Homo sapiens: one gene and its partners. The protein of the gene in region 2 purifies or fractionates together with the protein of the main gene of each other region. This does not show direct contact. Each region holds a gene or a part of one and is shown on either strand. Other genes may lie near its edges. The genes, in order: CTBP1, EHMT1 and CBX1.

Region 1 (10,987 bases), on a different chromosome or scaffold from region 2:
AAAGCTCCTCCTCACCAACCCCATCTTCTTCCCCCTCCCCACAGCAGCCCCTAAAGCCGCTGCCCAGGAAGGGCTCCCCGACCACCAGAAGGGCACCCTAAGGCTGGGTGGTCTCAGCGGCCCTCACCCTGCCCTGTCCCCATAAGCCCTGATTACTCCGGGCTCGAGTGGCCCTCTCGTGACAAAGCTGCCCTGCCGTGAGTCCCCGGCAGCCATCTGGGCATTGGTGAGATGCCCCCTCTGGCTGTCCAGGCCTGGAGGCCCAAAGACTAGGGCCTGGCGGTGCTGCCCAGCCAGGGGCTGACATGAACGAAGGCTGTGCACAGCCTGACCCGGAGCCTTCCAGTCCTGAGATACAGCCACCTGCCGCCCAGAGAAAACTGAGGCCCTGCCCTGCAATGGCAGAGAAGGCAGGCCCCCAAGAGGGAGCCGCACAGCAGCATGGAGCCACTGGGCTGAGAGCACGGGGCCAAGAGAACCTCCCCCAGACAGACAAGGCCCGTCACCCACAGGTTGAAACAGCTCCTCCGACGACAGCACCCCAGACAGACACTGCCCAAGTCATCCACGAGCCGATACGGCACCTTGGACGGCAGCATCCCTGTGAGCCAGGGAGCCACCGCACTCCACGGGGCCTGCAGGGCCGCATCACAGCTCAGAGGACACAGCGCAGGGGCTGTGATCAAAGGCATGGATTTGCCAGCAAGATTCCTCTCCAGGACATCCGTGGAGCCGCACGTTTCCCTGTTTGTTCAGCGAGCACATGCACACAACCTGTGAGCTCCAGGAACCCCCAGAACGCCACCTTCCTGGCTCCTACCACATGTGGGGTATCAGGGCTACACCTTCCTCCCCTTCCCAACACAGTCTACACACGACACCACTGGAGAGACAGCCTCGGATGCCTCTGAGGCTCCTGCCAGCCACGCAGACAGGGCAGCCCAGGAGCCCCCACACCACAGACGGGCGGCAGGTCAGGGTGGCACAGGAGGGCACGGTGACACGGGCGGCAGGGAAGAGTGGCACGGGAGGGCAGGGTGACACGGGCGGCATAGCAGAGTGGCATGGACGGGCAGGGTGACACGGGCGGCAGGGCAGGGTGGCACGGGTGGGCAGGGTGGCACGGGCGGGCAGGATGGCACAAGCAGGTCAGGGTGGCACGTGTGGGTAGGGTAGCACGGGTAGGCAGGGTGGCTTGGGCCACACCAGGCCTGGAGAGTTAACGGCGGTGCCAGGGGAGGGTGCAGAAGGGGCCTGGTCCCAACACCGCCCACACCTCTCTCAGGGCCATAGCCCCAACGCCTCCCCAACCAAACCAACTGGGCTTCCCTCAGGGCCATCCTCACTCTCCTTCAACACCCGTGAGAACTGGTACCACCTGGGGCCGCCCAGAGAGACAACTCAAGGTTAACGTTTGGCTCGGCAAAGAGCCACCAAGAAATTTCTGGCTTCACAGGGAAAAAAACGAACATTTCCTTGTGGGAGATACCACATGGAATGTGTGGCCGGAGGGGCTTCTGGAAACGATGGTCAGTGACGCAGGTGGCACCTTGTGGGTTACCACGACCCAGTGCGGGGGAGAGCAGTGGGCTCCGGCCACTGCAGCTGACAATGGAGGACCCGGGGGTCCAGACACTCCCGGCACAGAGCTCTTACCCACAACTACCAACATCCAGCGACCACCAGAGGACCCTGGCGCTCCACCCGGCGCTCCGACCAGCGTTCCCTTGGGCGATGCAGTTCAACCACAGAACCCGTATGACACTGCCTGCTGCCTCTACCACCTCCTGGCCACCCCTGGGCCCTGGGCCAGGCCTGCACCGTCAGCACCACCTGGATGGAGCCCTCTCCAGCCCCCAGTGGAGTGGGAAACATTAAGTCCTTCTACAAGGAGAGTCAACCGGGGTAAACACCTCACAGGGCACACACCTTTGACTTGGGCACTGCATGGGGAGCACCAGGGCACAGCCGGGCACAAAGTGCTGCCTGAAGAGTTCTCAGCAACACTAGTGGTGCCAGCCACACGCCTCTTGGCTCAGTGACACCACCGTCAGCTCAGACCAGGTCACATTCTGGGGGTACTGGCCGCAGGAAGTTGAGAGGGCAAGTGACAGTCAGAGGAGAAAAACCAGAAAAACTGCCAGGCTGGTGGGGAACCAGGTGTGGCTTGACGGCCACCTCTAAGCCCCGAGGGAAGAGACTGGGCCTCTCGAGCCTGGGGCCCGTTTCCTGGAGAGCATGACTACTTCTGTCCAGGGTTCCTCCAGAAAAAATTTATTAACAGAATGATGGTTAACAGTTGCTGTCTGCTTACACTACAAATGTCCAAAGAGTGGGGGGCTCCCAGCCCTTGGGGGAGGCAGACAGGACGAGCCAGCACTTCCAATCCCACCAGGACATGGCAGGGGGCCGGCTCTGCGCCAAGCCCACAGGACTGGACCAAGGCTCGTCCCACTCATCAGAGGGACAGGACCAGCCCACAGTCCTGTGCACCCCGGGCCAAGCCTCTCCTCCCCCACTGCCACGTTCTCAGGTTAATGACAAGCGAGTAAAAGGGAAGATCCTACTCGCTGACATCCCCAACCACACGCCCACCTCTCAGAACTAACAGCTGCCCTGGTCAAGGCTGACAGGAAGAAGTGCATGTTGGGGACATGGCAGACACCCCAAAAATGGCCGGGCAGGCGGACGAGGCACCCCCAGGAGTGACCAGATGCCACCCCCAGTGCGTGTCCCTCCCAGAGCTCTGCAGAGGACGCCTGTATGGAAGCAGGTGCTCAAAGATGGGCAACAGAATCACAGAGAGCAAAAGGCGTCTGCGGAGCCGACAGCCCCAACCAGGAGCCAAACCCAGACCCCAGAGGGAGGTGGCCAGGCCCGGGCAGGCAGGGGAGACCTGGGAGGCCGGGTGCTGAGGCCCAGGGCAGAGCCACGCCCTACAAAGTTCCAGGACACAGAAAGGGGGACCCCCAAACCGCAGCTGTCATCCTCAGCTGCAACGGCAAATAGTTACCCCACGGTTCTCCCCCAACCCTGCCCCAAGCTGCAGACGGGTACACAGACGCGCAAAGGCCACGCGCTAGGAGCTCAGCGAGGACGGCCGCGGTGCGGGCCCAGCCGCCAGCGCCGTTTTCTTCCCGAGGGACGTGTGCTCCCTGCCGCGCTCCTACAGAAACGGTGGAGAGGCCGGGGAGGGGGGGGGGGCTCGGGCTCAACGGAACACCCTGCGCACCCGCCGCCTCGGCCCTAGCTCCAGGCCCTCTTGCCCCAACTCTCAGGGTTTCACCTCCCCACTCAGGGCACCGGGAAGGGCGCGACCGCCTTCCCTTTTCCCCACTGGAAGGGAATTCTGTCCCGGCAATCACGGAGACGACAGCAAAAGGGATCTGGCCCAGGCCGGGCTTCCAGACACCGGCGCCCTTGGAGGCCGCCAGAGAACGCTCCAGTCTCGGCCCGGGGCTCAGGCGCACGGACTCTGCCTTTGCAGCCGGGTCGAGGGAAAGAGAGGCTCCGCGCAGCGGCTCGGGCCGGCCCAGGACGCGGGCGCTGCAAGATGGCGATGGTGGCAAGCCCGGCGCCCGCCCGTGCTCCCTGCTTCCGCGGCCGCAGCCCGCGAGGAAGGCGCCCCGGGACCTGGGCGGGCCCAGGCAAGGGCAGGTGGGGGCGCTGGGCCGGTCCGGGACCTCGCGGAGTTCGCGGGAACGGAGACCCCGGGCCCTCCCGCGTCACCGCCGGGGGCTGCGCTTTGGGCCCGGTCTGAGGGCAGCGGCCTCCTCCACGGTCATACCCGGCACCCGCGCCCCGTCCCCTTCCCCCACAGCGCGCGGCCACGGTCGCCGGCGGCCTCCCCGCGGGAGGCGCGCTCCCGCGAGTGGCCCGGGAGCGCGCGCCCCAGGACACCCCGAGCTGCGCACGGCTCCCGCCCCATCCCGGCCCCGCAGGCCCAGCCACGGGGTCATGACCGGGGACGGGGTAGCGGCCGGGGATCGGGACCCGGGGTGCCGTCCCGGGTCCGACGGGGCTGGGGTCGGTGGAGCTGGGGGTCCGGCGGGGCAGCCCAGAGGCCCACAGGCCCTTTTGTGTCACCTGCACGGGCCGCGGGCGGGGAGAGCAGACTGCGGCGCTCGCGCACACGCAGCGGCCCGCGCATGCGCAAGACCCTTCCCGCGGTCCCGCCCCCGACCGCGGCCACGCGCGGACGCCGGCGCGCACGCGCACTCGCACACAAAGCCGGCGGCCCGCGGGCGCGCGCTCGGTCCGCCCCCGCGCCCCCCGCCCGCGCGGCACCCGCCCCGCCCCGCCCCCGCCCGCGGCCGGAAACGCGCGCGCGCGCGGCCTTACCAAGCGGCAGGCCCTTGTTGAGCAAGTGCGAGCTGCCCATCGAGAGGCGCGAGCGGCCGCGGGCCCCGACCACTCCGGCGCGCTGCGCCGCCGCGAGCCCGGCGCGTGGGGCGGCCTCGGCGCCGTCCGCTGCTCCGCCCGCCCGCCTGCGCCTGGCCGCCGCCGTGCCGAGTCTCCGCCGCGCCGCTGAGCCGCGCTCCGACGACCGCGCGGGCGGGGACACGGCGGCGCGCGCGGGCGGGGCCTCGCGGTTGGTCTCCTGGTTCCCAGCGCGGGCGGCGCACGGACTCACGCGGGCGGCTCAGGGCCCGCCCGGCCGGGACGCGGCTGCGGGGCGGGGCGGGGCGGGAGCCTGGCGGGAAGCTCGCGGGGCTGCAGCCCGGCGGAGGCCCCGGGCCTGGTGTTCCGCACGTTCTAAACCGCCTGTCCCCGAGGAAGTCGGGCAGGGTCGGGCCGGACTCAGCGCCGCTGGCGGGAGCGCCGTCCGCCCCGAGGACCCTGCGGGCCCGGAAGCCGAGACAGGGCCGCCCACGTCAGCGCCTGGCGCGGGCCCGAACGTAAATGGCGCTCCTCCGCGCCGCAGCCGCAGCCGCCCCGCTCCCTTCCCGCTCCGCCAGCTGCCGCCCTCCCGCGCTCGCTTCTCGCCCCGCGGCCTGGCCCGTGCGCCTCCGAGGCTGGCCAGGGGCACCGAGGCCGCGGGCCCCCCATCGCCCCCACCCGAGCCCTGATTTACCGTCCGAGAGCCGGCGGCACATGGGACCCCGAGAGGAGAAGCGCGCCTGCCCCAGTGCGTCCCCAGGCGGGGGAGCCCCGACTCCTGGAGGGACCGCGTCCTGCCCGGCCCGGGAAGTTCAGGGCTGGAGAACCCCTTCCCCGACCCCATTTCTCTTTTAACAAGAGTAGGGTTTGTAGCTAACCAACGTCCTGACAGCTCAGCTCTGCTTTCCCTTTAAGCATTAATATCAAAGCCCTGCCTGCTACCGGTGAAGCCCCGACCCGGGAGGGCCCGAAAGTCCCTTCAGGGAGAGGCCGCACTGGGCCTGCTCACCCAGGGGCTGCCCCTGCAGACTCTCCCGAGGGGCCCAGGGATATTCCTCGCGCCGCGAGTGGACGCTTCCATCCACCCCATGGGGAGGGCCTCTGCGCGTGGCTACTCTGAGCCCTCTGGAATGCCGAGATAGTTGCATAATTTCAGAAACCACGGCATGGAGACGGAATGATGCAGACTCCTATCCGCGAGATACCTGCTGTAATTTCGCTGTGGTTCGTGAGGACGCGTCCTGGGCTGCCCTGAGAAGCCTACGTCTCCCCTTCGAGGCCCGGGAAGACCTCCAACCCCGCTGACAATGCTGGGCCCTCAGCCAGACCTGCCCTGCGTGCCACGTTCTGTTCTAAGATCGGGCTGCCGAGCTGTGGCCTGGAGGAAACCTGGCAGGTGTCACCAGAGCTTTGGGGAGGGTGAGGCCCTGTCGGGGAAGCCCAGTGGGAGTCATGAAGGAGGGAACACGTGTGGAGCCCTTGTAGGGGGAGGGGCAGCCCTGCAGAGATCTAAGAAAAAATTCCAGAAAAATGAGCAGCAACCTCCAAGGCCAGGCATCGGTGCAGGGGACAAGGGGTCGTAGCTGGAGGGGCCTAGGTGAGGCTGCCGGGAAGGGACGATGTGGTTGGTGGAGTGCACAGGCAGGGACCTCACTGGACTTTCCTGTCTGCTCAGCATGGACAGGCAGCCCAGGAGAAGGCAGCACGTGGCCGGGTGCAGGGACGTACCACCCCCACTTCCCCAGGGGAGCTGGGGTCAGACGAGTCCCAGGCACTCCATCCTCTGCAGCAAGTCAGGTTGTGATTTACTAGGGGGTGGTGAATATAATGGAGAGACTTCTGGGGAGGAATTCCTGGCTCCCGCGTGGACTTGCAGAGCTCAACAGGCAGCCACGTGGCTGAGTGTCCAGCAAACATCACATAAGGCTTTGGGTCCTGCAGGTGGGGCTGCCATGAGCAGCAAGCTCAGTCCAGAAGAACAGTTCCTCTCCAGGATCCACTTCCTGCGCACTTTTATGTGCAGTGTAGCTGGAGCAGAGCTCCCCGGAATTCCACAGGCAACTGAGAACGGAGAGGGATGCAGGCCAGCCAGGGATCCAGCGTCTTCCCCATCGTCACTCTCCATGGCCTCCGTCTACACACAGTGTTCGTCTGCACAGCTTGTCAGCGCGTTATCATGACTTCTATTTGGCACCGGCCCGTCTGTCCACTGTCCTGGCTTGTTCCAAGCGCTGCCTTCTCCAACTGGGGTCCTGGCTGCAGAGCTGTCTGCTCCCCACGTTGGGCAACTCCAGCCAAGATTCCTACACCCAAATGTGACCGTGTTGCTCACGAAGAAGGCTCAGCTTTGCGTGTGCCCAGCCGTGTGCACAGCTCGTCCCAACTCCTGCGGGTGGCACCTGCCTCTCCCACCTCCAGTCTTTCCCCTGTGATGAGCAGATGACCACCGCCCTCCAGGGTCAGCGTTTGGCTGTTTGTGTGCCTGCCCACCCGCCTCCCTGTGCCTGGGCCTGCCCTGTGCCTGCACACAGGAGTGGCTCATGGCGTTTGCCCTACACGGATGGGCTGTCCTGGGAGCTACTGGACAGTCACCTTGGTGGGAATGCCAGAGGCATGGGCATTAGGTCCCCCCGGCCAGCCTCCGTTGCCACATGGGCTATTTTTGTCCATCGCGTGGGACAACCTAGTATTGGGGGAAAACTCAGTCCACTCTAAAGAAGCATCGGCGTTTTGGATGGACGAATGCTGCTTCATGCGACTCCATGTCAATGGACTATTTTATTCAACTCGGGTATTTATGAGTGTCTCCTCTGTGCCAGCCACGTGTGAAAGAAGAACTCCAAGTTACTGGACACCAGGACAAACCAGGTAGATCACTGCATCCGGTTCCTCCTCTTTCTGCCGACTCTCCCGGGCAACCGTTCTGATTCCTGGCATGGAGTTGGGGGCGAGCTCATCAGTACCCAGAGCGCCTGGTGTGCAGCCAAAGGCCCCCATTTTATTAGTCGGTGTGTTCAGTATCACGCTCAAGACAAGGGCCAACCTATTACTTCACACACCTCAAATACAAAAAGTGCCTGGGAACGTCGATGAGGTATTAAAGGAAACCACTGGTCTTGTCAGTCATGTACACACAGAAAAAAAAACCAGTCATTTTTATTTTTATTTTTTGAGACAGAGTTTCGCTCTTGTTGCCCAGGCTGGAGTGCAATGGTGCAATTTCAGCTCACTGCAATCTCTGCCACCCGGATTCAAGCAATTCTCCTGTCTCAGCCTCCCGAGTAGCTGGAATTGCAGACACCCATCACCACGCCCAGCTAATTTTATGTATTTTTAGTAGAGATGGGGTTTCACCATGTTGGTCAGGCTGGTCTTGAACTCCTGACCTCAGGTGATCCACCCACGTCAGGCTCCCAAAGTGCTGAGATTACAGGCATGAACCACTGTGCCCAGCCGAAAACAACCAAGAATTTTTTAACAATAAAATGACCAGCAAGTAAACTTGAAACAAAAATGGACAAATATCTAAAATATTTTTAAATGTATGTATTTTAATTGGCAAATAATACTTGTATATATTGTTTACAACTTGTTTTAAAGTATGAATACATTGTGGAATGGCTAAATCAAGTTAATTAACATGCATTAACTCACATACTTTTTGTTTTTTGGTGTGGTGAGGACACTTAACATCTACTCTCTTAGCAATTTTCCAGTCACCATGTCCTACTATAGATCCCTAGAACATATTCCTCCAATGTAACTGAAATGTATCCCTTGACCAACATCACTGCCCGGCCCCAGCCCCAGGTAAACACCATTCTACCCTCTGCTTCTGTGAGTTCAGCTTTTCTAGATTTCACCTGTGAGTGAGATTGTGCAGCATTTGTCTTTCTGTGCCTGGGTTTTTTCACATAATGCCCTTCTGGTTCATCTATATTGTCATATATGGTAGCATTGTCTTCCTTTGTAAGGCTGACTGGTATACCATTGCGTATATACACCACATTGTTTACCTAAAATATTTTTTAATACAATCGCTGAAAACTGCCACATAACTTGTATAACTGCTGTAAGGCTTGGTTTTCAGCCATAAGATGGGAAGAGAAGTAACATCTACCTTGCAGGATGACTGCAAGCTGTAAAATGCCACAAAGCGCAGGGGAGCCCAGAACCGCCGCAGCAGGACAGGTCCTCTGGAAGCAGACAGACCTGCCTTGTTACTTTAGCCATCCAGAGTCCAGTTTAGCCAGTGATGAAATGAGTACAAAAGAACACCTTTCTTGTAGGATTGCAAAATGATGTCTTCATCCATTCTGTGCTGCTATAGCAGACTCCTGCACACTGGGTAACTGACAGCTTACAGAAGCTTGTTGGCTTATGGTTCTGGAGGCTGGGAAGTCCAACCTCAAGGGGCTGCATCTGGTGAGGGCTTTCTTGTTGCATCATCACATCGCAGAATAGCAGAAGGGCAAGGAGAGAGAGAGAAAAGAGTGCTGAACCCACCCTTTGATAAGAAGCCCACTCCCATGATAATAGCACCAGCCCATTCAGGAGGGCAAAGCCCTCGTGGCTGCATCGCCTCTCAAAGGTTCCACCTCTCAAGATCATCACAATGACAATCAAACTTCATGAATTTTGGAGGGGACAATTATTCAAACCAGAACAGAGGGGGATGGCAAATGTTCTGAAAACAAGCCTAGAAATTGATCTTAGAAATGGTGCAAAAGTAGATTTCCCCTTCTGTCTTTACCTGTGATGGTCTAACCCCAAAAGCCTCCCAGAACAGAACTTGTGAGCACAAGATAGAAACAACAAACTTGATGCAGAGCTGAGCTCACAAGGAGGTCAGGGATGTGACAGGAACCAGAGACAAACAGAAGGCTGAAAACCAGGTCTTAAAGTGTGAGAGCCAAAGGGCAGCAGCCCAGGAGAGTGTTCGTCTGGAGCCCCGGGGTTTAAGTCTCCACACTCACATGGGAAAGGAGACGAGGCCTCCCTGGATCCACGTGAATCAGGAACTGGAACAAGGGCACTCAAAGGGCTACGCCATCAGGAGAGATGTGAATGAGTGTGCCCACAGGAACAGGAAGACAACAGGATGGTTCTGTGTTTGCCTGCCTGTTGTGGTTCTGTGAGACAGAAACAGTTTTGATGACAATTGATAATCAGGACTCAGAGCCTTGTTAGACTTCAGGTATTGAATTTTTTTTTGAGACAGGGTCTAGCTGTGTTGCCCAGGCTGGTCTTGAACTCCTGGGCCCAAGTGATCCTCCTACCTTGGCCTCCCAAAGTGCTGGGATTACAGGCATGAGCTACCGTGCCCAGCCTAGGTATCGAATTTTCACAGGTTTCACAGTCCAGGCCCTACCACCCCTGCAGCAAATAACTTGATATAAAACCTGGGCCCAGGCTAGTAATACCCTTGAAGCCCATGACAGAAGCAGGCACAGTGATAGAAGCAAAATCACGTAGACATTATCAATCTAGCCCCCTCCAATTCCTACCCATAAAGCCCACTGAAGATGAATTTACAATCATAAAGTACAAAACATGCCAAGAAAGAACCACATGAGGGAAGTCAGCAGATGTGTGAACAGCAGGAACGGACTCCGCCACCAAAGGCCTTCAAAAGGTGAATCAAGCAAAAAAGAGAACATTAATTAAACATGTTTAACATGGGTAAGAATTACAGGAATAAAAGAAGTAAATGAACAAGAATACGATTGCAAGGGAGTGGTAGAAGAATAGGCAGTTTTGAAGAACTAAATGGAATATCTAGAATGAAAAACCATGCTTGCTAAAATTAACTCAATGAGTGAGTTTAAAAAGCAATTTAGACCCAGCTGAGAGCTGAATTTGTGGTATATGCAGAAATTACTTCTGATGCGAGGCAGAGCATGATGACAGAATGAGGAGATCCCAAACATCTATGAGAGTTCCATTCTGAATGATTAGAAGAATGAGGAAGCAACAGTATTTAAAAAGATAATCACTAAGAAAGTTCTATACTTGATGAAAAATGTGAATCCTAAGATTCAGGAACAGTGTGAGACTTCAGCTGGGGAAAAAAGATGAAACTACACTTCTACATTTAGGAGTAAAACTACAGAATACAAAAGACAAAAAAATTTTAAAGTGAAAAATAAAACCACTCAGATTACATCAAAAGCAGTTATCATGAAAGCAGCCTATCAATTACAATGATAAAAGCCAAGCAATAGTCAAATATCGATTTTTTTCAAAGTCACAAGATAAAATAAGTAGTAACATAGGATTCTGTACATAGCATTATTTGTTACCTATTGGGGCATAACAAAATTCCCCAAAACTTTGCAGCTTAAAAAACATTCAGTATTTCACCATTGCCATGAGTCAGGAATCCAGGCGTGGCTTGAGTCCTCTGCATATTGGCTTCTCACCAGACTGCAATCAGGACAATAGCACAGTATCTGTGGTCTCATCTGAAGGCTTGCCTGAGGAAGTCTGCATCCAAGCTTACTCTTCGTTGGCTGTTGGGCAGAGGCACCCTCAGCTCCCAGCCATGTAGGCTTTCCCATGGTGCAGCTTCTATCAACAAAGCACGCCAGACAAGAGGACAACACAC
Region 2 (7,796 bases):
CCAGCCCACCCCACACAGCCCCTCCTCACGGACGCAGACGTGAAAGGCCGTAGGCTGTCTGGGCTCCTGGAGGAATGCGGCCTCCCCTGTGGCCCTGTGCAGAGGGGTCACAGGTGGGCCATATCCATCCTGGGTCCGCCTGCCCAGTCCTTCATGCAGTTGCGCAATGTCTGGTGACAGGCACTCGTACCTCAGGCTGGACGACCGCGCACCCTGCTGGGGCCGTCTATTCACAAAGTGCAGGGCAGTTATGACTGTGCTGGAAAAGCATCAAAAACACCTGCGTGAATTCTGTGTATTAAACCGTGGAGTGTCTGAGCGTGTTACTGAGGTTACACGAAAAGCCCTCCTGTGGTGAGTGAGGCCAGTCAGCATGGAGAACATAGCAGGCTGGAGGCTTTGGGTCTAGGGGTCCCCGTAGAGGAGTGGGGGTCATGGCTGGCAGGAAGTAGGACGGGCTCTGGCTCTCCCTTGTCCGGCCTCGCTGTTCAAGTGCAGCTCTGCCTCTGGTTGTGGGACTCACCTGATGTGCCCTGTCGGCTTCCAGAATGACGCCCAGAGCTGGGCACCTGGCGCTAGACACAGACATGCAAACACACACACACACACACACACACCAGTGTGCCCGCATTCGCACCACGTGCACGATGCATTCGTGGACACACACAGACTCATTCGACACGTGCGCAAATGCACAGGCTCCCCTAACCTCTGCCTGGAACGTCCCCTCTTCGGGGACAGATCTGGGGTGAAAAGGAAGCTGTACTTCCTTGGACAGGGGACAGAGAGCTGGGCCGGGTCCAGGGGGACCTGCAAGTTCTGCAGAGACCCTGAAATATGGTGTCATAATAAAAACCCCATTTAAAGTACTTCTTTTTTTTTATTGATTTCATTGGAAACAGAACAAGAAATGGTCAGAGCCAAAAGACTGCTCTTAAAACTGTCAAAAACATTTTAACAGAAAAAAATAAACATGACTGCATTATGAATGTTTTTAGAAGAGTTGCACAAAAAAAACCCCACTGTTACTGCACTAATTACAGTCTTTAAAAAGGTATATGCCAAAAAAAAGTATATGACCTGCCAGGCCACCACACAAAAGGTGATGGCAAATTTATTCACGCTACAAGACTAACATCTTTAAAAAAGTTTTTCCTGCATTTTATTCTAAAATCACTTTGTTCTCTTTATACAGTTGATAGTTTATTTCACGTGGTGAGTAGAAACCACACCAGAATCAGCACCGTTGTCTGTGTTTTGTTTTTTATTTTGTGTTTGTCCTAATGTTCAGTAATGGTAGAAAATAAATCAGTTTATTCATCATAGCATGTGGCTTAAAAAATCAACAGAAGGTGCCAGCGTCAACGGAACCGGCGGGGGCTGCACCCACCAAGCCACTTCCTCGAAAAGAAACGTCAGTTAGAGGTTTGATATATAGGACTAGATATAGGATTCCTTTAAAAAGCAAACCCACATTTTCTCCAAAGTTAGTGGTGGGGTCGGTCTCCTGACCTCTCCGAGCCTGACAGGAGACTGTGCCCTCCGTGCGGCCCCTGGGACTCGGCCCCAGCCACGCAGGCCGTGGGCAGGGCGAACGGAGCAGCTCGCGCTAACGGTGGCTTCGGCGGCGCCACACAGAAGAGTCTGGGCCGGACAGGAGAACAGAGCAACCCCGTGGTGCAGCGGGGACCTCGGAGGTCAGAGGAAGAAACGAGAAACTTCGCAACGACAAATCAGCATCAGAAACTCAGAAGGTGATGCCAGTGCGGACTCCCAGCGTCTCTGGCGCGCGGACCAAAGTGTGCGCTCCAGCCTGGGCACTGGGCCCGCGGTGAGGCCGCAGGTCTGGGAAGGTGGCTGGGAGGCATCCACACCCGCCCGCAGGGGCTGCAGCCTCACCTCCGACCCCTCCAGGAAGCCGGCGGCGCAGCCCCGAAGGACCCTTTCGGTTGCGTGCGGAATCTCTCCTCCTCGTCCTCTAATCGGCGACGCGGCGGTCCCTGGCTCCCGAGCGCCCCGCTGGCCGGCGGCGTCTCATAGGGGGTCGGCGGCAGCCGCGGAGCTGGTGTCGGGCAAGCCGTCCTCCTGGGCCTCCTGGGCCGCGCTGGCCTGACGCTGGGCCAGGGCCGCGCTCGAGTGCCGGCACTTGGGGGAGCCGCAGCGGCAGCTGAAGAGCTTGCCTTTGATGTCCCAGAAGCGCTCTCCATAGTCAAACCTGGGGAGGGAACAGAACCAAGGCTCCAAGTCGAATCCCACCGGCACCTCCCACAAGCCAGATAAATTAAGGCAAGGCCAAAGCTTCCTCACCCCGATCTGCCGTGCCGCATCCCAGGTCGCAGTTTTTAGAACTACAGGAAAACCACTAGCATAAACCCGAGACAAGCCCAGGAAAGCAATGCGAGCCCCGTTCCTAAAACCGTCCCGCCGGCAGCGGAGATGGCCAGGGGCCGGGGCGGTGCGTACCCGAGCTGCTCGCCGGCCTCGATCAGGCGGGTGCTGAAGAAGGCGATCCGGGGGAACCGCAGGTCCTGGTGGGCCATGAACACGCGCACGGGCACCAGGTTGGGCTCGCAGTGGTGGTTGATGAACCGGCTGACGTTCCCGTAGAACCGCGCGTCGATGCAGTAAACCTCCCCGTCCTGCAGGGCGAGAAGCCGGCACGGGCTGCAGTTAGCAAGGCCCCGACACGCCGGCCTCGCCGGGTACGGCCATGCATGGCAGTCCCGGAGCCTGCAGTTGGGCGCAGGCCCGCCATGCAGGAGGGGCCTTCTCCAGTGACCTGTGGCGGCGGTGCGGAGCCTCCGCCAGCCTTCTCCTCGCTGTGTGGCCACCCACCCCGCACCCTGCCGTCCTCGCTGGGCCTCCGTCTGTGGTGGGGTGGGGGTGGTGCGGGCCGTTCCCTTGACGGCGTCCCCATGGGGCTTCCAGCGCGGTGGAATGTGGACAGCGCCATCCCACCCGAGGACCCATGGGGCTGTCTGGCACCAATAGGAGAAAGGAGGCCGGGGCTGCAAGAGCCCCGTGAGGCAGTGGCAGGGGCTGAGGGGGTCGGGAGGGATGGAGCTGGCATCCGGGACACACTGTCTTGGTGACGAGGAGGCGGAGCAGTCCCCAGAGGGTCTGGGAAGACTCAGTGGCGAATGGCACCAGGGAGGACCGTCAGGCGGAGGCTGCCCACAGAAAACGACTTCTGCTGCAGCCCTTCCGGGTGCTGATGTGACTGTGGAACACGAGGCCGAAGAGACTGAGGCGTCCTCCTCACCCTGGTGCCTTGGAGAGGAGCCCAGGATTCCGGGTGGCCACATGGCCCTGGGCCCTGGCCCCTGGCACTGGCCTGTGATGATGGATTCTGAATTGACCATAGAGAGGGGGACGAGGTGGGTGGGCCTGACCTAACCACGCAACCCCTTTAAAAGCAATTCTCTCTGGAGACCCAGGGCTTGGAGCTGCTGGGGCCTGGATGGAGGAGCTGCGTGGGAGTAAGGTAGGTGGTCCCGGCCGGCAGCTAGCAAGGAACCTAGACGCTGCCCACGCAACCACAGGGACCTGGGCTCAGCAGCACCCTGCCTGTGCAGCCCGAGGCCCGGCACGCCCAACCCCTGCTGCGCACACTGGGCCGAGTGGGTGGCCGCCATGGCGAGCTGCGGGTGGGTGGCGTGGTTTGTTACCCAGCGACGGGAAGAGGCAACACCACAGACGACAGCCAGGCAGACGGGGAAGGAGGCACCTGGGGCTTTCCAGGACCGAGTTCCGAGAGGGCGGGGCCTGCCGGCAGAGACACCTGGTCCACAACCTGCCCCAGCATGAACATTAACCAGAGAGCCAGGGACGCTCAGAGGTCAAGAGGTTAAAACCCAAACCAACAAGCGGGTAAAGGCGTGGACGAGAGCAGCTCTCCGTCAACCTTCACGGCGCGGGCAGTGACAAGACAGTAAACCAGGCGAGCACGGCCGCAGGACAGGACCAGCCACAGCCCCCAAAGCCAAAGGCGCGGGAAGCTGCCTCCTGGTTTACCCCAAAGAAACAGAGTTCAGAGTGGCTCACCTGGCGTGGACTTTGGCCTCTGCTTCGGGGTCTGATGGACTAAGAATCTATAGGCGACCCCTCCTCGTGCAGAATGCAATTCCGGAACTAGCAACGGCGCACACACGAAGGTCTTGATAAGCAGCAAAATGGAGAGTGAGGGGCTTCCGACTGGAGGGGCCAGGCCCAGCTTTCACCAGGGGCAGCTCGTCTGGCAGAGCACACAGCGCTGCTCCGAGCTTCTAAGATGGGTGGGGTGTCAAAGTCTGTGACACAAATCTCTGCCCGACCAGAACCAGATAAAGACAACAGTCCAGAGAAGGACGGCTGGAGTAAGGCAGATAGGCAACGTGGGAGGCGGGGCCTGCGGAGAGAGCCCAGCCAATCCTAGGACTGGAGAGAAGGCACAGGGGCCACATGGGTGGGTGGGGGGAGGGCCTGCGGAGGGAGCCCAGCCAATCCTAGGACTGGAGCGAGGTGCAGAGGCCGCGTGGGAGGCGGGGCCTGAGGGAGACCAGCCAATCCTAGGATGGGAGCAAAGTGCAGTGGCCACGTGGGAGGCGGGGCCTGTGGAGGGAGCCCAGCCAATTCTAGGACGGGAGCGAGGTGCAGAGGCCACGTGGAAGGCGGGGCCTGTGGAGGGAGCCCAGCCAATTCTAGGACGGGAGCGAGGTGCAGAGGCCACGTGGGAAGCGGGGCCTGAGGAGGGAGCCCAGCCAATCCTAGGACTGGAATGAAGGCACACAGGCCATGTAGGAGGTGGGGCCTGTGGAGGGAGCCTGGCCAATCCTAGGACTGGAGGGAAGGCACAGGGGCCACGTGGGGTTGGGGGGTTCTGCGGAGGGAGCCCAGCCAATCCTAGGACTGGGGCGAAGTGCAGCGGCCACGTAGGAGGCGGAGCCTGTGGAGGGAGCCCAGCCAATCCTAGGACTGGGGCGAAGTGCAGCGGCCACGTAGGAGGCGGAGCCTGTGGAGGGAGCCCAGCCAATCCTAGGACTGGGGCGAAGTGCAGCAGCCACGTAGGAGGCGGAGCCTGTGGAGGGAGCCCAGCCAATCCTAGGACTGAGGCGAAAGCACAGGGACCACTAGAGAGGCCGGGCCTGCAGAAGGGGCCCAGCCAATCGCACTAGGGAAACAAGGCCCACGCAGAAGAGAAACCAGAGTCCTCCCCACATGTTAACAGGAACAACTCAAGGGACCTGACGCTTGAAACACTGAGGAAACGAACACGTCCGAAAGAACACTCAACTGAGTCCAGCCTTGAGATGAACCAGACACTGGGCCAACAGACACGTATTTTCAAGGCAGCTCCTAAGGCTGTCCTCAATGAAGAACAAAGAAAGATTTCAAGGCATGAAAATATCAGAGAAATGAGAAGTCTCAGCGGAGAAACAGAAAAAGAATCCAACGGAAATTCTACATCGAAATTCACTGGCTGCTGAAGCCATCACTGGGTGGATGAACAGAATCTCAGAGATTTGCCTAATGACAGGTAAAGTCAAACAAATTGACTTGTACGCAACATTATTTGAGATAAATAGCAAGGGCTGAAATCAACCTGAATGCCCCAAAAAGAAGGAGAAAGATTTCCATGTACGGACAATATGATGACTCTCCCCAAATCCTGTCGGGAGAAAGGTAAGGGCTCGTGCACTATCTACACTCTACCACTTTTTGTGTAAGAAAAGAGAAGGAATAAGAAATCTACTTGAGTATTTTTTCTCGATTTCTGCTGATGGTTACTGCAGGTGCTACAGTTGGAATGTGTGTGCCCCCCGACCAGACTCACAGGCTGAGACCCCAAGGTTAGGGTGAGGCTTTGGGAAAGCGATTAGGTCATGGGAGTGGAGGGAATTGTGCCCTCATAAAAGGGACCCCAGAGAACTGCTGCACCCCCTCCACCACGTGGGGACACAGTGAGAAGGCACTGGCTACGAACCAGGAAACCCTCCCCAGACACCAGATCTACTAACACCTTCATCTTGGGACTTCCAGCCCCCAGAGCAGTGAGAAATACATTCCTGTTATTTGTAAGCCTCACGGTTTACAGTGTTTTGCTATCACAGCTCGAATGGACTAAGACAGCAGGAAACAGAATACAGAGAACATGGAGAGAAGCAAGGCTTTTCTGGGTGTGAACTTCCCAAGCATGCAAAAATTTTACACAATCAAAAAACAAAAAATTAAATTGTAACATTTAAAATGAACTAAAATTAATGTAACTGCCTATCAAGCCAGTGACACAATCACACAAGCAACATTTCTGGTGCCGCGAAGCACAAGACTGGGCCCAGCTTCCATGGGACATGTTCTAAGGAGTGAGACGCTGCAAAGAAGCGCAGATGCCATCCGGGAGCTGGACTGGTGCTTACTGTTATCGGTAATATCTGGAGTGCTATTTTGAAACTAAAGATTTTAGAAACCAAAATTTTTATTGTAAGAGATGCAAATATAAAATCAAAGAAGTTGGATAAAAACTCTACACTGTTAAATTTGAATTGGAAATATTAACATGAACACATTTTTAAAAATCTATTTACTTCATAACTCTGTCCTCTGAAAAGTGAGTCAAGAGCCCATGGCACCCTGACAGCAGTGGGCACCCCAGAGTCTCATTTCAGTGTCTAAAAATCTTTCTCTTCCAAAAGCACAAGGACATCCTGGAGAAATGGCTGATTCCAAGTGTGGGGCAAGGAACATAAGGGAGGCCTGGGTGTCACATGGTACCGAAGAGCAGTGTCACCAAAGGAGACGGGCTCGCCTGCATGGGCTCCCCATGGCCAAAGATGGGGCAGTTTGACCATTAAATAAGAATGGCTATAACTGATCAAACACACATGTAAAAATGTAAACAAAAAAAAAAAGTAAAAATCCATGAGCCCACATTAACACTCAAAACAGAGGAAAGAAAAAAAAGACCAAAATTTCTTTGCTGCTACTTCCTCCCTCTGAAACTTGATAACTAAATGGTAAGAATAAAGCATTGATCTTGCCTTTCTCTGAGGAGTAACCACAAAGCCCAGGTTTAAGGTTTATTTATTTAAACAGAAGAATGTCTGTTAATAAACAGGGAAGGCATGGATGCTCGGGGTGGCCAGTCGAGGTGGCCATAAAGCTCCCTATGGGACACAGCAGCCCCGGTGTGAGTGTCGCCAAACCTCAGCCCTTCCTCCCAGCTGGCCGCAAACACGGGATAAGAGAACAAGTGAGGTGACACCACGGGGGGCACACAGAAATGTGGACCATGGGATTTCTCAGGCCGTTGGCCAGTCTCCCCCATAGGCCACTGTGTGGGCTGCTGGTAGGAAGAAACTTCTGGGATGTGCCAAGTATCATACAAGGGACAGCCCCAGCTGACTCCAGAGGGGCGAACCAGGAAAAGACATCGGGGAAACTAGGAGTCTGTAGATGAACCTCACGTGACGGCAATCTCAATCTCGTCAGGCAGCACTATTCACAGGCACACTCTGACGTCACTGGGGGTAAAATGTCACATTTGTAACTAACTTTACACTGTATCAGCAAAAAAGGATGAAACAAATAAAGCAAGATACTAACAACCATCAAGTCCAAGTGGGGGAATAGGAGTCTCCACTCTCCTGATTCTCTCTGCTTTCTGGTATGTCTGAAAATTTTCACAATGTGTGGTCAAAAAGGAATTGCAAAGGCAAGAAAAAGGAATCTCTGAAGGAAGTGGCAGAGAAGTAAAACATTTTTCTTCTATTTTTTAACTAAGTAAGAGACCTGAATGCCTTTAAAATTAGGGAAGAGGC
Region 3 (10,173 bases), on a different chromosome or scaffold from region 2:
TACAACAGCTCAGGAATGCCACAAATGACAAGTCAGTCAGTTCCAAAGGTTAAGACCAAAGCTGACTAGCAGTCCATTTGGGATACAAACCAAGGCTGTAGTTTCATTTCAGTGCATCTGATGGTGCAGAACAGAACCAGAACACCTCCACTTAAACTCCCTTAATTAGCTACCGACTGCTGTGCTACTGTCAACCACCACCAGGGCACACACTCAGACCTCTGTGCGGGAAGGCCTGTCTGTGACCCAGACCTTCAGTAAGGCTCCCCAGCTCCACTTATGTCTCCTGAGAACTTTCCTGAGGAGGCTTTCTGAAAAAATTATCTACACATCAGTTTATTTTAAACAAATGCTTTGCACGAGTGAGTAGTACTCAACTGTTACACTGATTTGTTCTCAGTGGAAATCCTATGTCTGTTACAAAAATGACAAGTTGGCCGGATGTGGTGGCTCATTCCTGTAATCCCGCACTTTGGAAGGCCGAGGCGGGCGGATCATGCGGTCAGAAGATCAAGACCATCTTGGCCAACATGGTGAAACCCTGTCTCCACTAAAATACAAAAAATTAGCCGGGTGTGGTGGTGCACGCCTGTAGTCCCAGCTACTCAGGAGGATGAGGCAGGGGAATCGCTGAACCCAGGAGGCGGAGGTTACAGTGAGCTGAGATCGCACCACTGCACTCCAGCCTGGCAACAGAGCAAGACTAAAAAAAAAAAAATAAAAAAAAATAAAGGCAAGTCCAAGGCCAGGCACAGTGGCTCATGCCTGTAATCCCAGCACTTTGGCAGGCCGAGGCAGGTGGATCACCTGAGGTTAGGAGTTCGAGACCAGCCTGGCCAACATGGCAAAACCCCATCTCTACTAAAAAAATTTAAAAATTAGCCAAGTGTGGTGGCACGCGCCTGTAGTCCCAGCTACTCTGGAGGCTGAGGCAGGAGAATCGCTTGAACCTGGGAGGCAGAGGTTGTAGTGAGCCGAGATCACACCACTGTACTCCAGCCTGGGTGACAGCAAGACTCCATCTCAAAAAAAAAAAAAAAAAATCATAGGCAGAAAATGACGTTTTAAATCAGTGCGCAAACACAGGGCCAAATTCCTGGAAAATTTTGGAGAAGTAGATTTTAGCCAAGGTCATATAATCTATTACATACCATAGGCAGGATCTAAACCTAACTTAAAAACCCATGTTTCCAAATATACCATAGTTTGGAAGTGCTATCAGGTCAGAGTGCTCAATAAACTTTTGGCAGTACTGAAGACAGCATGATGCGACCATCTTTACAACCTCTGCAGCAACTGATAAATGCCCAGTAAGTATTTACTAAATTAACATGGTGTGACCACTTAAAGATTCAGGCCAGGCACTAGATTTTCAAGCCTACAGTGTTCAAGAAATAAAACCATTCAAGTGAGGAAGCCATTTCCAACAGGCTGAACCTATAAGGCAAGAAGGGTTCCTGGTAAGACTTAAGACAGAAATCAGGGATTATAAATCTATAGTTTTATTAAGACAAAAACTGACAATGTAGTATGAAGTTTACATTTAAACAAAGTTTACACAGAAATCTAACACATGCCTAAAAGAATTTTACAACGTAGCTCTAGATGCAAGTCTAGACAATATCAAGAACTGATGGTTCTCATGACTCAAGACAGAGCATTTTGGGTATGTTACTTATTAGGATTTCTTAAAAAATTGTTTTGTGTGTGTATGTGTGTGTTTTAAAGTGAACCACTGCCCAATATGAAAGTTTAATCTTCTCCTGAGACCAAGGCTTTTGAAATCACTAAACTCTTGGATCAATTCAGTGAAACTTGTGCTGTCAGTGACTGAACCCTGCCAACAATGGTTTCAGTGTTCAAAGCTCAAAGTAAACGGCTCCAAGAGTTTTCCCCACTAAGAGCATGGGCCCTTGTCTTTCCCTACTGTCTTACCTCCTCTACCACCCTCTTCCTCTTCCTAACACCTCAGCCAGTGGCTTGGATGAACAAGCTGATATTTATAACTTCGTTACTGGAAAAGAAAGGGTCTTCTAATTTCGGGAATTAGCACCTCTAAGGCAGAATGATCTGCTTGTACTGTATACTCTCCAATAAAAGACCTTCCCTCCTCGTCAATTTCCATCTCCAAAATGGCAACTTTGGTAACTTATGAACAGGCTTAGTCCTTTGTGGGAACAGCAATAAGTTTAGGCAGGGAACACCTTGGCTTATAGGTTTCAGACTTTCACAGCTTTTAAACAGTCTCTCACAGTCCTTATTTATGGTGCCAATGACATTTTTTTAAAGGTAAAATATTCTGGACATAGAAGCAAATCATTAGTTGTCTGTTCTTTTCCATTGCTTCACCATTTCCCCTATCAGGCCCCAAATGTTAATCAAAATGATGCTACCCATCTCCCTTTCTCCCCTCCCCATCCCTCCCTCCCCCAAATAATACACCAGTAATAGCCAAAAACTACACACATGCTACGCTGTAAAAATGCAGAGTTAACACTATTGGGAAGAAGGCTGTGGGTTGTGGAGATGCTCTTTGAAGATCTACAGTATTTTTTTGCTCTCCCACACACCCAATTCTGCAAGTTTTGTCCTTCATAGAAGGCCCTTTGCTTTTCGCAGCAAAGTGCAGAAAAGGTTGCCTTGAAACACTTATCCCCTTTCCCCTCCACTGGGATGGGTGTGCAAACTATACAGCTTGAAACGGCTTTAAAGCACTTGGGCTGCTGCAGGGCACAGAAACTATACTGGCTCTTCAAAGGACATCTTCTCAAGCCACCTCTATGGTGTCAAGACAAGTAGAACTCCTTCCCTTCCCACTTGAAACCCACAGTCAGATGTGACAGGGGCTGGTACTCAGGAGCGTTAGTTCTTGTCATCTTTTTTGTCATCATCCTCCGAGGGGTAGGAATGCCACGTCAGCCTTTCCTCATAGAAGGATATGACAACCTGTGGGCACTTGACATTGGCTTCCTTGGCAGGGACCAGGTCAGCCTCATCAGAGTTTTTCCTGCAGAATAAAGCAAAGAGAGACTTTGAGACCAGGTGCTGGTGGTCTATCCTAAGTTGGATAACCCAGGGGACAGTGCTTTAAAAATGGTAATTTTAGAAAAATAGGCTAGGGAACAATGAAAACGTGGCCCAAGCAGCATTTACTGGCAATTGTATGTCAAGTGACATCCTCAGAGTTAACTCTCCTGTTGAAAATTCCCTCTGGGGATTCGTGTATGTCAAAAGCCAGGTCAATGGACTTAACCAATCACATCTGAACATCTGGGCAAGGCCCCAAAAAGCATGACTCTCTAGATTCTCTGAGGGAAGAGAGGATACCTAGATTCTCTGAGGGAAGAGAAGTTACCACACTCCTCCAAAAGCCATATCCCAGCTGATAAGAACCCATGGAGAAATCTTGGCTTTGTAATAGGATTTTTTTTTTTTTTTTTTTGAGACAGAATCTCACTCTGTTGCCCAGCCTGGAGTGCAGTGGCATGATCTCGGATCACCACAACCTCCACCTCCTGGGTTCAAGCGATTTTCCTGCCTCAGCCTCCCCTAATAGCTGGAATTATAGGTGTGCGCCACCACACCCAGCTAATTTTTGTATTTTTAGTAGAGATGGGGTTTTGCCATCTCTACTAAAGATGTTGGCCAGGCTCATCTTGAACTCCTGACATCAGGTGATCCACCTGCCTCAGCCTCCCAAAGTGTTGGGATTACAGGCATGAGCCACCTCGCCCGGCCCGTAATAGGATTAAATACCACATCTGGCATTGGCCAGAGCAAATGAAGATGGACACTTTTTGCATAATCGTAATTACACTGACACTTCCAAATGCTATCCTCGCATAACTTCCAGGTGCTTTGAAATGATGTTTCAACATCGGGAGTAGAAAATGAGGGAGCTGTAGTTTTCTGAATTTTAAAATGTTTTCAAGTGGCTGGCCGCAGTGGCTCACACCTGTAATCCCAGCACTTTGGGAAGCCGAGGCAGGTGGATCACGAGGTCAGATCGAGACCATCCTGGCTAACACGGTGAAACCCTGTCTCTACTAAAAATACAAAAATTAGCCTGGTGTGGTGGCAGGCACCTGTAGTCCCAGCTACTTGGGAGGCTGAGGCAGGAGAATGGCGTGAAACTGGGAGGCAGAGCTTGCAGTGAGCCGAGATCATGCCACTGCACTCCAGCCTGGGCGACAGAGTGAGACTCTGTCTCAAAAAAAAAAAGTTTTCAAAATTTGAAAATCATACACATTATAAGGGAATTAGGAGTAAACTCTTAGGCAGGGAGCAGTAGCTCACGCCTATAATCCCAGCACTTTGGGAGGCCAAGGTGGGCAGGCCCAGGAGTTCAAGACCAGCCTGGTCAACATGGCAAAACCGTGTTGCTACTAAAAATACAAAAATTAGCCAGGCATGGTGGCGTGCGCCTGTAATCCCAACTATTCGGGAGGCTGAGGCACAAGAATCGCTTGAACCTGGGAGGTGGAGGTTGTAGTGAACAGAGATCGCCTCACTGCACTTCAGCCTGGGTGACAGAGCGAGACTCTGTCTCATTTAAAAAAAAAACAAACTCTTATCTTCAGGTTATTAGGAATGTCCTAGACAGAAGCAGTAGCGTAAAGCAAGCAGGAGACACCTGATGACATCTCTGACAAAGCACCACCCCAAATCTCTAGAACCTTAATAACAGGAAATCAGAGCCACATAGTCCCATAGAGCAGAAGAGTAAGCTGATAATGTATGTTTTTGAACAATGGACCCAAGAGAATGGGAGGGAAATGGGAATCTGAAGCATGCTGCCATTTGCTGACAGCTGAACAACACCCTCTGAGTTAAATTTAGTCATTTCACTCCCCAGAAATATTTACTACTTTTAGAAATATACAAAAATCTCTATTCTCCAGTAAAATAACTTTTTAAAATGTACTTTGTCTTATAATCAAATCCAGTTTTAACCTGTAGACAGCAGTGAGTCGGCCAGGTGCAGTGGCTCACGCCTGTAATCCTAGCACCTTGGGAGGCTGAGGTGGGTGGATCACCTGAGGTCAGGAGTTTGAGACCAGCCTGGCCAACATGGTGAAACCCCATCTCTATGAAAAATACAAAAATCAGCCAGGCGTGGTAGCACATGCCTGTAATCCCAGCTACTTGAGAGGCTGAGGCAGAAGAATCATTGAACCCGGAGGGGCGGAGGTTGCAGTGAGCTGAGATCGTGCCACTGCACTCCAGCCTGGGCGAAAGAGTGAGACTGTCTCAAAAAAAAAAAAAAAAAAAAAGACAGTAGTGAGTCAACCAAAGGAGTACAATCTTAAGCAATATGGAGATACTACTGTAACTCACACTGGTCACATGCAGAAAAAGTATATTCTAGCTAAACTGAGTAACTCACAGTATAACTTCTCCCACCCAATAAGCAGCATCTTAAAAATGAACTTTTCTCTTATAGGTTAACAATAAATCAGCTAAAAGAGGGGCAGCTCCAGTAACTGCCTAGGGAATACATAGAAGAGAATAGGTTAGTTAGTTGTGACTCTGGCTTTCAGTGGTGCTAAAGTTAGGCCCCTCCAGCCATACTGTAAAAGAGGATAATTAGTACAGACACGAGTTTCAGAGTAAGTTCTGGACTGACAAAAGGACAAAGCTCCATAGACTGTGTGTGTGTGTGTGTGTTTTAAAGGACAAAGTTTCTAGAATGCTGCCTTCATTGGCAATGGCTTAGAATTATTCCTTCCAAATTTTAAATACAATCATTGAGATCCACTTTGTGGGGAGAATGAGCAAGAAATAGGAAGAATGGCCTTCTTTTGACAGAGTAGGAAAATTACAGAGATTGTTGGGATAACTATCTTCATTAGGCTGTTTCATGGAGTATTACTATCACTGGTATTTATACTCATAATGGAAAAAAGCAGGCTTGCTCTATGCTTGATAGCAGTTAAGGAGCCTTGCTGACCCCTGCTGGCTGATCCTGTAATTGTAGAATCTGCACAAATTGAAAGGGATCCAACAATTAAGGACAAAAGGAAGAACTACAGATTCTTTCCTAACCCTGAGAATTTAGCAGAATTTCTGATTCTGGGGCCAGCCTCATCTTTATTAAGGAGGTGGTAGAAGGAGAGGGTGGTCCAATCACATTTCATTTTCTCCCCCTTTATTTACAGAAGTGAAATGTAATTCCTTCCCACACTCTTTCCACTCTAGATTGTCTCCCACCTCCTAAAAATATGGGCAAAGACCCAAGATTCCTAAGGGCTCCTACCTGTAACTCATGAGTCCAGGGTGGCAGTCAGGCCGAGGGTCACTATCGAAGGACTATGCCATCTTAACAATTTCACACTTGGGTGATTGGAATTTCGAAGGTCCAGCTCTTTTCCTCTGGCATGAAACCAATGGGAGAAGAAAAAAAACAACCACACAGAGCCACTGGCCGACTCACCATTTCATCAGGAACATGAGCTCTCCACTGGAGTCTGTAGCTCCAATAATCCGCTCCGGCTCCAAACCTCGAGCAAAGCCTCGTGGCTTTTCTGACTGTAAAAACAAGATGGGTAGAACAATTTTATCTATATGGGACTATTATCCAGACTGGAACCATTCCTGTGTCTCTGATTAATGTAATCACAAACTCTTTTTTTTTTTTTTTGAGACGGAATCTCACTCTGTCGCCCAGGCTGGAGTGCAGTGGTGCGATCTCGGCTCACTGCAGCCTCTGCCTCCCAGGTTCAAGTGATTCTCCTGCCTCAGCCTCCCAAGTAGCTGGGACCACAGGCACATGCCACCACGTCAGCTAATTTTTTGTATTTTTAGTAGAGACCCAGTTTCTCCGTGTTAGTCAGGATGGTCTTGATCTCCTGACCTTGTGATCCGCCCGCCTCGGCCTCCCAAGGGGCTGGGATTACAGGTGTGAGCCACCGTGCCCGGCCCAATCACAAACTCTTTTGCCAATATTTCACCAATACCTTGGCTCAAGTAAGAGAGCTGTTAGAATCCTTTGGAGTGATTATTCATCAATGTCTGAAGCGCATGAGATTTTCCCTATGTGAAAAGGGACATACAGCCCAAGCAAAATCAATGTTTACAACTATCTCTTCACTCTCAAAAAACAACTTACTTTAAGATACTGATTAAGTCAAAATAGCCACCTCACACCTTTAATGATTAAATATTGAAAACTATTTTTTACAAGAATGAATTCACTTGCCCTTATATCTGTCCCCAGCAAGTTTTCCATTTACTGCTCCTGTACCATGGATAAAAAGTAAGAGATCATGTGGCTTCATGACAGTACACTCTCACTTTGTAGGCATTAGCCTACCTAAGATTTCAGGACTAAGAAGAGACAGCTGCTAATATCAGGGAAGAAGCAGAACAAAACTACTTTGACAGTAGTTTGAATTGTGGGCTAGTAAAAATTCTTACTTCTATTCTTACCTCTTCTTTCTTCTTCTTTGGTTTGCTCTCCTCTCCCTTATCTTCAGAATCAGAATCAGCTTTGCGCTTGCCTCCCTCTGATTTATCTGTCTCATGTGCTGTTTTCTGTGACTGCAGAAACTCAGCAATGAGGTCGGGGCAATCCAGGTTCTCTTCTGGCTCCCATGTGTTGTCCTCACTGAAACCAGAGGGCACAGCAAGTCACACTTTCACTCAAATAAGTATACTCATACTAAGGATAATCGTAAGAGGACAAGACCTCAGATGTCTATGGAAAAGCTGAAATTCTTGGGGAATGGGGAAGCTTTTTAGTATAAATAGAAAGCTAAGAAACTGGCTTCCTTCAAAGGCAAATGACTTTTATTTGTCAATTTAAATTGGTCTGTAGCCACACACAAAACTGTTTCTCAGCAATCACTATGGGCTGGGTACAGTGGCTCATGCTTGTAGTCCCAACACTTTGGGAGGCCCAGGTGGGAGGACTGCTTGAGGCCAGGAGTTAAGAGACAAACCTGGGCAACTAAGCGAGACATGGTGGTGCATGCCTGTGGTACCAGCTACTTAGAAGGCTGAGGTGGGAGGATACCTTGAGCCTGGGAGGTTGAGGCTGCAGCGAGCTATGACTGCACCACTGTACTCCAGCCTGGGTGACAGAGCGAGACCTCGTCTCAAAAGAAATAATTTTTAAAAAGAAGTCATTCTGCTTTGTATTATAAGCAGTAGGCCATATTCCTAATTAAACAATAAGCCATGAAGGTGGGGACTGAGTCACACTGTATCCATCATAGCACTGGAGGTCTCATACATCTCTAGACTCCTGATAAACACGTGGTGGCTACATTTACCTGTGTCAGTGAAACTTACTCTGAGAATCCCTTCCACTTTAGGAGGTACTCCACTTTGCCCTTTACCACTCGACGGTCGAGAACTTTTTCCACCACATATTCCTCTTCCTCCTCTTCTAGCACCTCCTCCACTTTCTTCTTGTTTTGTTTTTTCCCCATAGTGCCCGCCAGCTTTCTGGTGTAAAGGGTGACGCTGCTAAAATGATAAATGAAATAAAAAGGGCATTAGGGAGCACTCTTATTGGTTAGATAATATCTGGATGGTAAGAAAACCAGGGACATGACAGGTGATAATATTGTATGCTGCTTATAGTAAGTGTTAGGCTTCTTCTCACACTCGATACAAAATAGTTTTCTGATATGTCCAGCCAGAAAGCTCATAAAACAGCCCCAATTAATCTTACAGCAAACTTTTTTTTTTTTTTTGAGAGACGGAGTCTTGCTCTGTTGCCCAGGCTGGAGTGCAAAGTGGCGCAATCTCGGCTTACTGCAACCTCCGCCTCCTGGGTTCAAGCGATTCTCCTGCCTCAGCTTCCCAAGCAGCTGGGACTACAGGCGTGTGCCACCAAGCCCAGCTAATTTTTGTTGTTTTTTTTTTTGTTTTTTTTGTTTTTTTTTTTTTAGTAGAGACGGGATTTCACTATGTGTTGGCCAGGTTGGTCTCGAACTCCTGACCTCAGGTGATCCACCTGCCTCGGCCTCCCAAAGTGTTGGAATTACAGGCATGAGCCACCACGCCTGGCCTTCACAGCAAACTTCTTTATTCTTGTGTATCCATTTAAAACTTTTATACCCATTCTTGGTAATTTTAAAAGGCTCCCAATACTCCTTTTACCATAAAGCATGGTAGCTAGGGCCAGGCGTGCAGGCTCACATCTGCAATCCCAGCATTTTGGAAGGCCCAAGTGGGAGAATTCCTGAAGCCCAGTAGTGTGTGACCAGCCTAGGCAACACAGCAAGACTCCATCTTCACAAAAAAACCGTTGTAAAAGAGCACGGTAGCTAAAATATTGCATTAAATTGAAAGGCTGGGTGCAGTGGCTCACACCTATAATTCTAGCACTTTGGGAGGCCGAGGCGGGCAGATCACCTGAGGTCAGGGGTTCAAGACCATCCTGGCCAACATGGCGAGACCCTGTCCCTACTAAAAATACAAAAATTAGCCAGTCGTGAGCCAAGATCGCACGACTGTACTCCAGCCTGGGCAACAGAGTGAGACACTGTCTCAAAAAAAAAAGAAAAGCAGTCCTCCTAAAAATGTGCACATATCAATAAAACTTACATATTACTCTCTGACTCATACTTTCTCCTATTCCAAGTTTTCCTTTTCATCAAAGTACTGGATTTGAATTTGTTTTTTTTTTTTGAGATGGAGTCTTGCTCTGCCCCCAGGCTGGAGTGCAGTGGTGCAATCTCAGCTCACTGCAAGCTCCGCCTCCTGGGTTCACACCATTTTCCTGCCTCAGCCTCCTGAGTAGCTGTGACTACCGGCGCCCGCCACCACGCCCAGCTAATTTTTTGTATTTTTAGTAGAGACGGGGTTTCACCATGTTAGCCAGGATGGTCTCGATCTCCTGACCTCATGATCCGCCTGCCTCGGCCTCCCAAAGTGCTGGGATTACAGAGCTGAGCCACCATGCCCAGTCTGTTTTTGTCTTTTTGAGACGGAGTCTCAACTCTGTGAGCTGGGCTGGAGTGCAATGGTGTGATCTCAATTTACTGCAACCTCTGCCTCCCGGGTTCAAGCGATTCTCCTGCCTCCACCTCCCGAGTAGTTGGTTTTACAGGTGCCCGCCATTACGCCTGGCTAATTTCTATATTTTTAGAAGAGACGGGGTTTAACCACGTTGGCCAGGCTGGTCTTCAACTCCTGACCTCGTGATTTGCCTGCCTTGGCTTT

What was found.
Region 1: the proteins of EHMT1 (region 2) and CTBP1 purify together in Homo sapiens (affinity purification with mass spectrometry; 5 studies listed by BioGRID and IntAct, with this or other methods). This does not show direct contact.
Region 3: the proteins of EHMT1 (region 2) and CBX1 purify together in Homo sapiens (affinity purification with mass spectrometry; 3 studies listed by BioGRID and IntAct, with this or other methods). This does not show direct contact.

Annotation. Positions count from the first base shown.
Region 1 is NC_000004.12:1,244,575-1,255,561, forward strand, and holds the start of CTBP1 (C-terminal-binding protein 1), read right to left. Parts: upstream 4,557-10,987; 5' UTR 4,382-4,556; coding exon of another isoform or gene 4,342-4,381; intron 4,155-4,341; exon of another isoform or gene 3,634-4,154; intron 1-3,633. UniProt on the Homo sapiens protein: Corepressor targeting diverse transcription regulators such as GLIS2 or BCL6. Has dehydrogenase activity. Involved in controlling the equilibrium between tubular and stacked structures in the Golgi complex.
Region 2 is NC_000009.12:137,829,192-137,836,987, reverse strand, and holds the end of EHMT1 (histone-lysine N-methyltransferase EHMT1), read right to left. Parts: intron 2,640-7,796; coding exon 2,464-2,639; intron 2,216-2,463; coding exon 2,035-2,215; 3' UTR 861-2,034; downstream 1-860. UniProt on the Homo sapiens protein: Histone methyltransferase that specifically mono- and dimethylates 'Lys-9' of histone H3 (H3K9me1 and H3K9me2, respectively) in euchromatin.
Region 3 is NC_000017.11:48,068,573-48,078,745, forward strand, and holds the end of CBX1 (chromobox protein homolog 1), read right to left. Parts: intron 8,470-10,173; 5' UTR 8,433-8,469; coding exon 8,293-8,432; intron 7,607-8,292; coding exon 7,429-7,606; intron 6,529-7,428; coding exon 6,434-6,528; intron 3,008-6,433; coding exon 2,863-3,007; 3' UTR 1,487-2,862; downstream 1-1,486. UniProt on the Homo sapiens protein: Component of heterochromatin. Recognizes and binds histone H3 tails methylated at 'Lys-9', leading to epigenetic repression. Interaction with lamin B receptor (LBR) can contribute to the association of the heterochromatin with the inner nuclear membrane.